Regions from separate parts of the Homo sapiens genome. Here region 1 is linked to region 2. The links come from fine-mapping of genetic effects on gene expression. A gene starts in region 2. The other region holds a variant in brackets. All regions are shown on one strand. Distances are between the middles of the regions.

Region 1 (5,360 bases), 25 kb before region 2:
GAGAGAGAGAGACAAGGACAAAGAAAGAGAAAGACAGGAAGAGAGACAGAGAGACAGGGACAAAGAGAGAGACAAAGAGAGACAGAAAGAGACAGGGAAAGAGATAGAGAGAGACAGGAAGAGAGACAGAGAGACGGAGAGAGACAAAGGCAGAGAGAGACAGGGACAAAGAGAGACAGAGAGATACAAGGACAAAGAGAGACAGAGACAGAGACAGAGAGACAGGGACAAAGAGAGACAAAACAGAGAGACAAGGACAAAGAGAGACGGAGAGAGACAAAGGCAGAGAGAGACAGGGACAAAGAGAGACGGAGAGAGACAAAGGCAGAGAGAGACAGGGACAAAGAGAGACAGAGAGATACAAGGACAAAGAGAGAGAGAGACAGAGACAGAGAGACAGGGACAAAGAGAGACAAAACAGAGAGACAAGGACAAAGAGAGACAGAGAGTGAGAGAGACAGAGACAGGGAGAGACAAGGACAAAGAGAGACAGAGAGATGGAGAGAGACAGAGACAGAGAGACAGGGAGAGAGACAGAGAGAGATGGAGAGAGACAGGGAGACAGAGACAGACAGAGACAGACAGAGAAACAGAGGGAAAGAGAGAGGGACAGGGAGACAGACAGCGTGGGAGCCGACGGCATCCCGCCGCACCCCTACTGGAGGTCCAGGGGTTCCGTGAACAGGTGTGCACGGGGCATCCCTCCGCGCAGGGCTCAGGGCTCACAGGAACTGGTCGGCAAAACATGATTTGTGATCTTATGCCTGGGACATGGGCGTTGGCTGTATTTTCAAGTCGGCATCCTGTGAACTCCCCCTGAAGCGACACCCTCTCTTCCCACTGAACCCTGAATGAGGAACAGCGACCCTTCTTGTCAGCGCGCCTCTGCCTGCCGGAGACCCAGCTTCCACATCCCCTGACCGGCACCCACTGTGCACTGCAGGACACCAGCTTGGCCTCTCATCCCTGCCTGGGCACAGGACAGAGGCCAGCGAGCGTGGTCGTGGGTCCCCGATCCCACCCGTCCGGCCCTCCAGGCTCACAGGACAGGCCACCACCAGGAGCATGTGGGGTGGGAAAGGGGCTTCCTCCACGCCAGGAGTTGGGTCCCCAAACATCCCCAGGCCTGTTTGCCTGAGATGTGGGCAGTGGGCCTCCAGGTGCAGGCGTGTGGACCAGCCGGAAGCCCTGGGCAGATGCATCTTCCAGGACACCCCTCCCCACAGTGGGGCTGGGGCAGGGCCCAGGAATCTGCCCCTTTAACAAGCCTCCAGGGGAGTCATGAAGAGCCTGGGACAGGCCCCCTGAGGAGGACACTGTCATGAGGGCCAGCCTTGCCACTGCTCGGGGCCCTGCTGCAGCCACCGGCCTCCCCCATGGGAATCGGGTTCCTCATTAGCCAAAACCAGGACCCGGAAACCTGCCCAGACTTAAAGCACACGGAGGAACTTGAACCGGAAGCCACGAGATGCCTGATTCCCAACTTCCTGGGAAAACGCCAACGCTGGTAGCATTGGTCCCAGGGCCCCACAGGAACACTGCTCACAGGCACAGGCGCCAGGCAGGGGCTCCCCCAACCGGCCTCACACACCTGAGCTGATGACTGGCTCCGCAGGCATCTGGGAGTACTGGGCATGAGGAACAGGAAGCTCTGTTGGGGGTGCAGGGACGCTGCGCTGGGGCAGGGGGAGTATGTGCCCTCTGCCCACAGCCGCCTTTCAGGCAAGGATCCCAGTGGCGAGAAAAATAAGTCAATTCTAATAAAATGGCCTTTCAATTAAATCCAATTTTCCCAACCATTTGCCTTTTAATTTGAAAATTCGTTCACAAGGGGATCACGGTTCTGGGACAAAACAGAAATTGCTTTTGAAACGTTGCCAATAGTTTTAAAAATCATGTGTATCAATGGGGAAAGGAGACCAATTTCATAAGACATCTTTAGGAAGTTTTATCAACATCATAAAATGCAAATACATTATTGGAAGTGTAGGTTTTTCTAAGAAGATTTAGTCTAGGAGGGATGGGCTGGGTGCAGTGGTTCATAACTGTAATCCCAACACTTTAGGAGGCCAAGGAGGGAGGATTACTTGAGCCCAAGGGCTTGAGACCAGCCTGGGCAACACAGGGAGACCTCAGCTCTCCAAAAACTTAAAAAAATATTAGCTGGGCATGAGGGCGTGATGGCATGTGCCTGCAGTCCAAACCACGCAGGGTGCTGAGGTGGGAGAATCACTTGAGCCCAGGGGCTCGAGGCTGCAGTGAGCCATGATTGCACCACTGCACTCCAGTCTGGGCAACAGAGCTAGACCACAACTCTAAAAAAAAAAAAAAAAAAAAGGGAAGGAAGGAAATGAAATAAATGAGTTCTCAGTTGTAACAGGGGC[G/C]TCCAGTGTGTATTACCACAGGTCTTGCAGTGGAAGGCTTTGTGTGGCCACAGCATTTGGGGGTGGTCATTGGGGAGCTGCTGGCCGGCACCCCCCCAGCCCTGGCACCATCAAGTCAGGGCACAGAGTTGCAAAGGACAGTTGTGCTGGGTGTTCCTGGTTACGCTGTAGCCAGGCTGTAGGCTGCTGGCACACCCAGGAAGCAGGGCACCTCGACCCTGCCCCAACTTCCATGAGGCCTCAGACAAGTCCCCTCCCTTTGCCAGGCTGGAAAGGTGACCAGCGTTCCAAGTCCTACAGTGCCCACAGCAGTGGGAGCAGGACAAAGACCAGCCACCGAGGGCCCTCCGGCAAACCCAGACCTCAGCCTGCTTGGATCCTCAACTCCAGGGGCCGCTGTACCAGCTGCACCACAGGGAGAGCCCCCACACACGTGTGACTCAGAACAGGAAAGGAACTCACACCAGCAATTAGGCCCCCACAGCTTCCCCGGGACCCACGGAGCACAGGTGGGCTGGGGAGGGGACTGTGTGGCCCAGAAAACCAGCCTGCCCAAGCTCCCTGGAGCTGAAAACAAGGCTCTCTGATGACTTCTCGGTTTGACTCAGGGCCTTCTGAGGTCTCAGCCTAGGGGTTCTCACCAGGGGCAGTTCCACCCCCAGAGGATATTCCCATGTGGGGACATTTTCCACGGGGTCAGAGGGTGCTGTGGAATCTAGTGTGCAAGACAGGGATGCTGCTTAGCACCCTACGTTGCTCAGGGCAGCTGCCCACAGCAGAACGCACGCCCAGCTGTCGGGGCCGTGGCGGAGAGGGGGTGCTGTGCCATGGCTCCGAGCTGAGGCTGGCCAGGCACTTTGCAGGGCCTCAGGCTCACACGCCAACCCTGCCCCAGTTCAGAGATGAGCAAGTGGAGGCCAGGAGGCCCAGTGGCTGGCCCAAAGCTACTGAGGGCTGAGGAGCTGGGACTCCAGCCAAGCCCAGGTCCTCTGATGGCCTGGCCGCACCCGAATGCTCCCCTCTGCCCTGTGGGGAGGAGTCCGCAGCCGGTGAGGGGCTCTCAGCCTCTCTCATCTCACCCTGCCCAACCCCTCTGGCCTCGTCTTCCATAGCTTCCCACGAAAGCCACAGCCCCCTGTCCCCCTGCCCTGTCCCAAGCATTCCCTCCCTGTCCCCAAGCATCCCCTCCCTGTCCCCTGTTCCTCTGTCCTCTCCCTGTCCCCCTGTCTCCCTGTCCCCCATAGGTTCCTTCCCTGTCCCCTTTCCCTTTGTCCCCTAGCCCCCCATCTTCTATCCCCTCCCTGTCTGCATCCCTCTGTCCCCTCCCCATCTCCTGTTTCTCTGTCCCCTCCCTGTCCCTTGTCCCCATAGATCCCTGCCCTATCCCCATGGGTCCCCTCCCTGTTCCCTGTCCCTTTGACCTCTCCTTCTCCCATCCTCTGTCCCCGTCCTAGCTCCTGTTTCTGTGTCCCCTCCCTGTCCCCGTCCTCCTGTCCCCTCCTTGTCCCCCATCCTCTGTCCCTCCCCGTCTCCTGTCCCTCTGTCCTCTCCCTATCTCTTGTCCCCATGGGTGCCCTCCTTGTCCCCTGTCCCCAGTCCCCACATGCCTGGCTATGTGCTCTCTGTGTTCAGCCTTTGTCTACCACCCCCTTCCTGCCCTCCCATCTCATCCCTATCTCTCCAGGCCAGGCCAGGACCCAGCCTCCTCTAGGAACCCCGTCTCCGGCTGACGCCCCATCCTCTCCCCTCACCACCTGACAGGAGGTGGGAGACCAGACATTTCCTTGGCCATGGGCCCACAGGTAAGGCCTCGTCAGTTCCCCAACCCCTTCCACCTCTGCCCAGGCCTGGGGCAGACAGGGCTCCACAACCACCTTTGATAAGCCAGGACACTCCACCCCGACTGAGCCCACTCTGGAAGAGGCACTCCCCATGGGGACACCCACTCCCACCTGCAGGGGCCCTGGCCGCAGGGCTGCTGTTACCTACCCACCCCTCGGTGGAGCTCTGAGACCGAGCCGTCCGCACTCAGCCTGGGCAGGAGACACAGGCCCCTCTGCCCCGTCTGGCCCAGCCATCCCGGACACTGGCTCTTAAGGGGGATCACAGGAGGGGTGCAGGGTGTCCTCCTCCATTCAGGGAGGAGGGAAAAGCCCCCAGGAACTCCACCCGCCCCGGGCCACCCCTAAAGCAAACATCTCAATGCACTTCTGATTCCGGTGGTTCCCAAACCACCAATGATTTTACCTGTTATTTCAGCAGATCAACGATTCCAATCTGAAGTGGCAAAGAAACCTGGGGCCATTGTGGGAGGAGACACCTGGGCCATTGTGGGAGGAGACACCTGGGCCATTGTGGGAGGAGACACCTGGGCCATTGTGGGAGGAGACACCTGGGCCATTGTGGGAGGAGACACCTGGGCCATTGTGGGAGGAGACACCTGGGCCATTGTGGGAGGAGACACCTGGGCCATTGTGGGAGGAGACACCTGGGCCATTGTGGGAGGAGACACCTGGGCCATTGTGGGAGGAGACACCTGGGCCATTGTGGGAGGAGACACCTGGGCCATTGTGGGAGGAGACACCTGGGCCATTGTGGGAGGAGACACCTGGGCCATTGTGGGAGGAGACACCTGGGCCATTGTGGGAGGAGACCGTCTCAATCCCCTTGTGCCCTTTTCCCAGGGACTCAGGCAGGTCCCAGGACCCAGAACCCAGAAGAGCCCCCGCCTGGGCAGAGGGGTCGGGCGGTCAGCGCACCAGAATGAAGCCAGGCAGGCTGGCCCTGTGTGAGACAGCGGCTCTCCCAGGCAGCAGCCCAGCGGAATTCCTGCAGGGCGTCATCAGAGCCCAGCCTCCTGGGGCCCTCTGTGCCAAGGGGCCTCACTCTCCCCTCCAGCCACCGCAAGAAGAGGGGCCGCTCTCGCTTGGCAGGCTGGGGCCAAGGACAGGGGTCCCCCGGAGTGAGGGCCAGGAG
Region 2 (5,327 bases):
TTAAAAGGTTGCCTTAGCCCTCCCCACACTGGAAAACAAAGGCAAGCCGCAAAATGGCAGCTCGTTACATGAAACACACACCAAAAGTATTTTTTGCGTGTTTTTTTGAGACAGAGTCTCGCTCTGTTGCCCGGGCTGGAGTGCAGTGGGGTGATCTCGGCTCACTGCAACCTCTGCCTCCCAAGTTCAAGCGATTCTCCTGCCTCAGCCTCCTGAGTAGCTGAGACTACAGGCACCAGACACCACCCCCGGCTAATTTTTGTATTTTTGGTGGGGACAAGATTTCACCATTTTGCCCAGGCTGGTCTTGAACTCCTGATCTCAAGTGATCCACCCACCTCGGCCTCCCAAAGGGCTGAGATTACAGGCGTGGGCCACGGCGCCTGGCCTTAAAGGATGTTTTGAAGACTTTTTCTGACTTTTTGCAAACACAGGGTTCACCGTGTACGCGATGTCACTTTGGTGTGCTCGGAATCTCAGGGTTAATACCGCCGCTGGGCAAGGGCAGGGCCTCGTCCGGGTTCTGGAGTGGGTGTGCGGCTCCTCTCTCGGCCCTCAGCCTCTTCTCTTCTCTCCACTTTAGCCGTGCCTTTCACACGTGCTCAGTGTTATCAATCCATTCTTGGACCTGGGTGGGGCATGCCCTATAAATAAATACTAAACCAGGCATCCTTGCCCCAGTGCATACTTCTGACAGATGCCATCAGCTTCCACCCACGCCTTGGGCAGATGCCTGCCTCACTGCCATCCCTCCTGCCCTGGAGATACCTACCAGATACTAAGGAGCCGGGTCTCTCCCCAGGGCTCCTGGCTCTCCCAGCTCTGGAACAGCACCTGGGACCCGAAGCCATCATGTGTGAGGACACTGAGTGGGTGCCAGGCACTCTCCCAAGCCCTTCGGACGGCACCTCACTGACTGTTCTCCAAGCCTCTGAGGCAGGAACTACTATTACCCGACTCTGCAGATGGGTAACCTGAGGCTCCAAGTGGTTAAGTGACTTGCTGGAGTAAATGGGGAAGAGGAGATTTGAACCCCAGCATTCTGACTTCCATACTACCCCATTAACCACTGTGCCAGACCAGCTTCTCCATGCGACTGGCCTTCGGGATTTGGAGACAGCTACTGTTCGCTGTAGCTTTCACGAGAAGGACTGCAAGGCAGGGCTCACATCCCGAGCCATTCTCTGGTGGCCGCCGCGCATAGACAAGCCCCGCTCAGGTCCGCCTTCCGTTCACCCCAGGCTACCTCTGATTGACAATAGGCAGCTGCCACACTGCAGCCTCTGACACCAACTTTTATCTTATTTCATCTTATTTTTTGAGACAGAGTCTTGCTCTGTTGCCCAGGCTGGAGTGCAGTGGCATGATATCAGCTCGCTGCAACCTCTCCATCCCAGGTTCAAGCAATTCTTGTGCCTCAGCCTCCCGAGTAGCTGGGAGTACAGGTGCCTGCCACCATGCCCAGCTAATTTTTGTATTTCAAGTAGAGACTGGGTTTCACCATGATGGCCAGGCTGGTCTCGAACTCCTGACCTCAGGTGATCCACCCACCTTGGCCTCCCAAAGGCTGTGAGGGATGACAGGCGTGAGCTACCGTGCCCAGCCAACTTTTTATCTTATTTTAAAAACTACATACGTAATGCATACATTCATATATGGCAACATTTCAAACACCGTGTCCTGTTCTTAATGAAATGCTTTTTAATCTTTCCCCGAATAAATCCAAAGAGGGGTGGCTCAGCGCTCAGTAAGTGCCAGAGGCCACGCGCTTTGTTTACTCCTCCCCCAGAGCTAAGGCTGAACAAATAAACAGCAATGACAGCAACAAAAAACAAAACAACAAAAACCAAAGCATTGTGTTAATGAGCCTGAGCCATTTCCAAATGTCCAGACAGTGAATAAACAGATGGCAGCATCTTTGGAAGCAAATGACCTCTGGTCAGAAGTTTGGGGTGCATTGCTTTTCCCTGCACCCTTGCTGGTTGAAGATCGTCTATCTGTCCCCTGTTTATGTAGCAGACGTGTGCATACTACATGGGCTTATCTCCTAGCGTCCAGGCCAAAATACAAGCTGAGCAAAGGTAATCATCGCTCCCCAAGTCCAAGCCCCGGGAAAGGCAGGGGCTGCAGGAGGAGGCGGCCCAGGAGCTAAGGGGGCGTGAGGTGTCTCCCTCCAGGCCGGCCCGGGCCATTTCTTCACGGGCTTTCTCTACCTGGGACCGCTCCGGAGACAGGCCAGGAGCCCTCGACAGACAAACTCAGAGCCACAGGGAGCTGTCCCTCGGGAAACCATCGAAACCGCTTAGTAACCAACTCCATGGGTCAAGGCCCCCGCCCAGATCCTTCTCCCTGTCCAGAGGGGGGCCTGGCCCTGGCTCCTCAGGGAAGCTGAGGCCTCGGGATTGGCACAGCCCTGCAGGTCGGAGGGAGCGCGCGGGCGGGGAGGAGCTTGCTGGCGATTTCCACCTGCACCCGCGCCCCGCACCCCGGCCTCTTCCCGGGGTTACCCTCCCAACGGCCCTCGGAGCCCGGGGTGGAGAGGGGACAGCAGGAGGAGGGCCCTCCCGGAACCCCTGCGGGGCTGTCTTTGGCGCCAAAGGCGGCCGGCGCTGAGGGCAGGACCCGCGTCTCCTCGCAGGCTAGACTCTGGCCGCTCCAGCCTCTCGCGAGCGCCAAGTCCCAGGGGCCGATCCAACTCCGAGGGAGCCCCTGTGTCGCCTTGTCCCAGCTCGTCCCCGATCGCTCTCCCCTCACCTCCCAGCTTCGGAGCTGCGAGCCCAGGTGCCTGCCCAGCGCTGCGCTCCAGCCCCCGCCCGCGGAGCCGAACCGCCCCCCGGCCCTGGGCCTCCTACCTGCAGCCGTCGCAGCCCCGGGCATCGGCGTCCGTCCCGGCTGGCCTGGCGCGGGCCCCGGTTTCGCTGCGTCCCCTTCGCGGGCGCGCGAGCCTCCGGGCGGGTGCGCGGGCGGGGAGGCAGGGCGGGCTGCCCGGCCCCTAGGCGGGTTATATGGGCGCGGGGAGGGGAGGCGCCGCGGGGAGTAGGCGGCCGCGGGCGTTAGCGCCTTTTTAGCCCGGCGCGCGGGAAGGCAGCGCGGGCCACCGAGTCGCGGCGGGGCCAAGGTCTCCTCCCGGCGCTCCGCCTCTCCAGCTGGCCGCGTCCAAGTCGGGGTCCCGGGCGCGCTCTGCCCCGCCTCCTTCCCGCCGCCTTTTGGCGCGCGTCGCTCCTGCAGAGCCCGGCGAGGCCGCCCACGCAGGGCCGAAGCAGGTCCGGCGCCAGGGCCCCTCCCGCGGGCCAGACCCGACCGCGATCTTCGGCAGAGCTGGGGACGCCGGTGCCGACTCTGTGCCCGACGCCTGCGTTTCCCCCGGACTCCCTGCTGTCCCCCAGACGGCCCATCTTTCCTGACACCCGGGTCTCTCCTGGCCGCCGCCACTAGCGCTGGGCTCCTCGGCGCGCGGGGCGCTTGGAATCCAAGGGGCAGGGGATGTGGCCGGCGGGGAACAGGGGTGAGGGGCGGGGAACAGGGGTGAGGGGCGCCGCCCCAGGCCCAGGAGGAGGGGAACGGCTGCTTTCCGCCAAGCAGGGCTTGCCACCCACTTCTCCTGTGGAGCCACGGTCCCGCCCGGCAGAGGATCCCGCGGAGAGCCTCTGGGGGCTGCTCTCCCAACCCCAGCCGGAGTTTGGGCCCCACGTCCTTCCAGGGGTCACCCAGGACGCGAACACTCCCGGGCGGCGGCCAGCACCCTGCTCCCTCCCCCGGCCGCCGCCTGTGGGCTCGGGCTCTGGATCCCGTTCGGTGTTTGGAAGGAGCTCGCGGGCGTCGGTGCGCTTGGAGTTGTTCTCTGCGCGCACCAGACCTGCGCTAGGTCAGGCCGAAGCTCTCTACCGGCCAGCGACACCCGCCGCCCCGCCCGCCTGCTCCTCCTAGGCCATCGGGGCTTCCAGGGCCCTCGACCACGTACACCAGGCCCTGGCTAGGGGACCCGACATGCTGGGCGAGTTCCGAGCGGCTCTCAGTGGCGGCGCTGCTTATGGTCTGATGCTTATGGGGCCCGTGATCTGGCTCCGAACCGATGTCCTCTGCCCATGGTGACCCCCACGTCTTGGAAAGTCGCGTCAGTGAAGCCCGTGGCTTCGCGAGCGAGCCGGGCTGGCGCAGACTGGGTTCTCTGGCCGCAGCGGGTCCGCGCCTGACGGGGAGGGTCCGGCTGACTCGCACATCTTCATGGCTCACCCACTGTTTGCTGGGCGCACGGGGTGGGGACCCAAAGACGAATCCCATGCAGAGGTTTGGGTCTAGTTTTGGCAACAGAAAAGGCCGGCACCGCCGGAGTAGGACGCGCGCGCACCACCATCCATTCGGCCGGGGAGGTTGGGGCGTCCGCGGGGAGCAGACCCGAGGCTGGGCGCCCGGAGGTACGAGCAGGACCCTGGCCGGCTCTCAGCTCCCAGAACCCAGGGCCAGGCGGGGATGTCAGGGTCTGCGCGATCTGGGGGGCCCTAGAGGCGCCGGCGGGGCCTGGCGCGGACTACTAGCGGCCTGCGGGAGCCAGGGGTGGAGGGGGCCGCTGTCTAGGGAAGAGGACCGGGGTCCGGAGTGGGGGTGAGAACGAGGCACGCCCCTGAGCCTGCGAAACCTGCGGACCGAGCGCCCGCGCAGGAGCTCGCTCCCTCTGGGCCCCCAGGTCCCAGACCCGCACGATTCTTCGCCCGGTGCCAGCCCAGATGCGCGCGGGTGATGAACGGGCGGTGGCCGCGATCCACGCGCTCGCTCTGCCCAGTCAGCGGCAAATTCGTTCTCTCCTTGATCTCAGTGGCACTGGAGCGTGAGGCAAGGGCCAGGCGGCAGGTAGAGGGGTCGGACTCAGCAAAAGCAAACAAAACCCCAAGCAAACGAAATAAATACTTATACATTACATACACGATATAATATATGTGCGACAGACACCGTATTACTTATTAAAGATATATTTGTAGGTAAACATATATTTACATGTAAACATACATTTACATATAAATATAAATATATATATATGCATGTGTACACACACGCAGACACACAGGTCGCTCAATTAAATTTGAATTTCAGACTAGCGAGTAATTTTTCCGTATTAGCATGTCCCGTGCAATATTTGGGAACATACTTATAACTAGATTTGTTGTGAATCTGAAATTCAAATTTTACTGTGCTTTCTACATTTTTATCAGCAGCCCTAGCTGGAGGTGCTCAAAGGCCTCCCGGCCTTTGAGGTAAGGTTCTCGGGTCGGAAATCCCTGGTCGGAAGAAACGTGGGCGTTTCCTTTAAAGCCCTGCGGCACAAGAACTAC

The links. PIP is the estimated chance that this variant, and not a neighbour inherited with it, causes the effect.
Region 1: its variant is fine-mapped to the expression of TP73 in whole blood (TOPMed, PIP above 0.99).

What each region holds. Positions count from the first base shown.
Region 1 is chr1:3,674,668-3,680,027 of GRCh38, reverse strand. The region is part of intron 1 of TP73 (tumor protein p73); the gene reads right to left. Among named protein-coding and RNA genes, the nearest start is that of TP73-AS3, 8.4 kb to the right of the region's middle. The variant G/C (reference allele first, on the strand shown) is at 2,385.
Region 2 is chr1:3,650,167-3,655,493 of GRCh38, reverse strand. TP73 (tumor protein p73) reads right to left here and starts at 2,978. Exons shown (of 14, transcript NM_005427.4): 1 at 2,853-2,978. RefSeq lists a silencer at 2,418-3,367 and an enhancer at 4,327-5,170.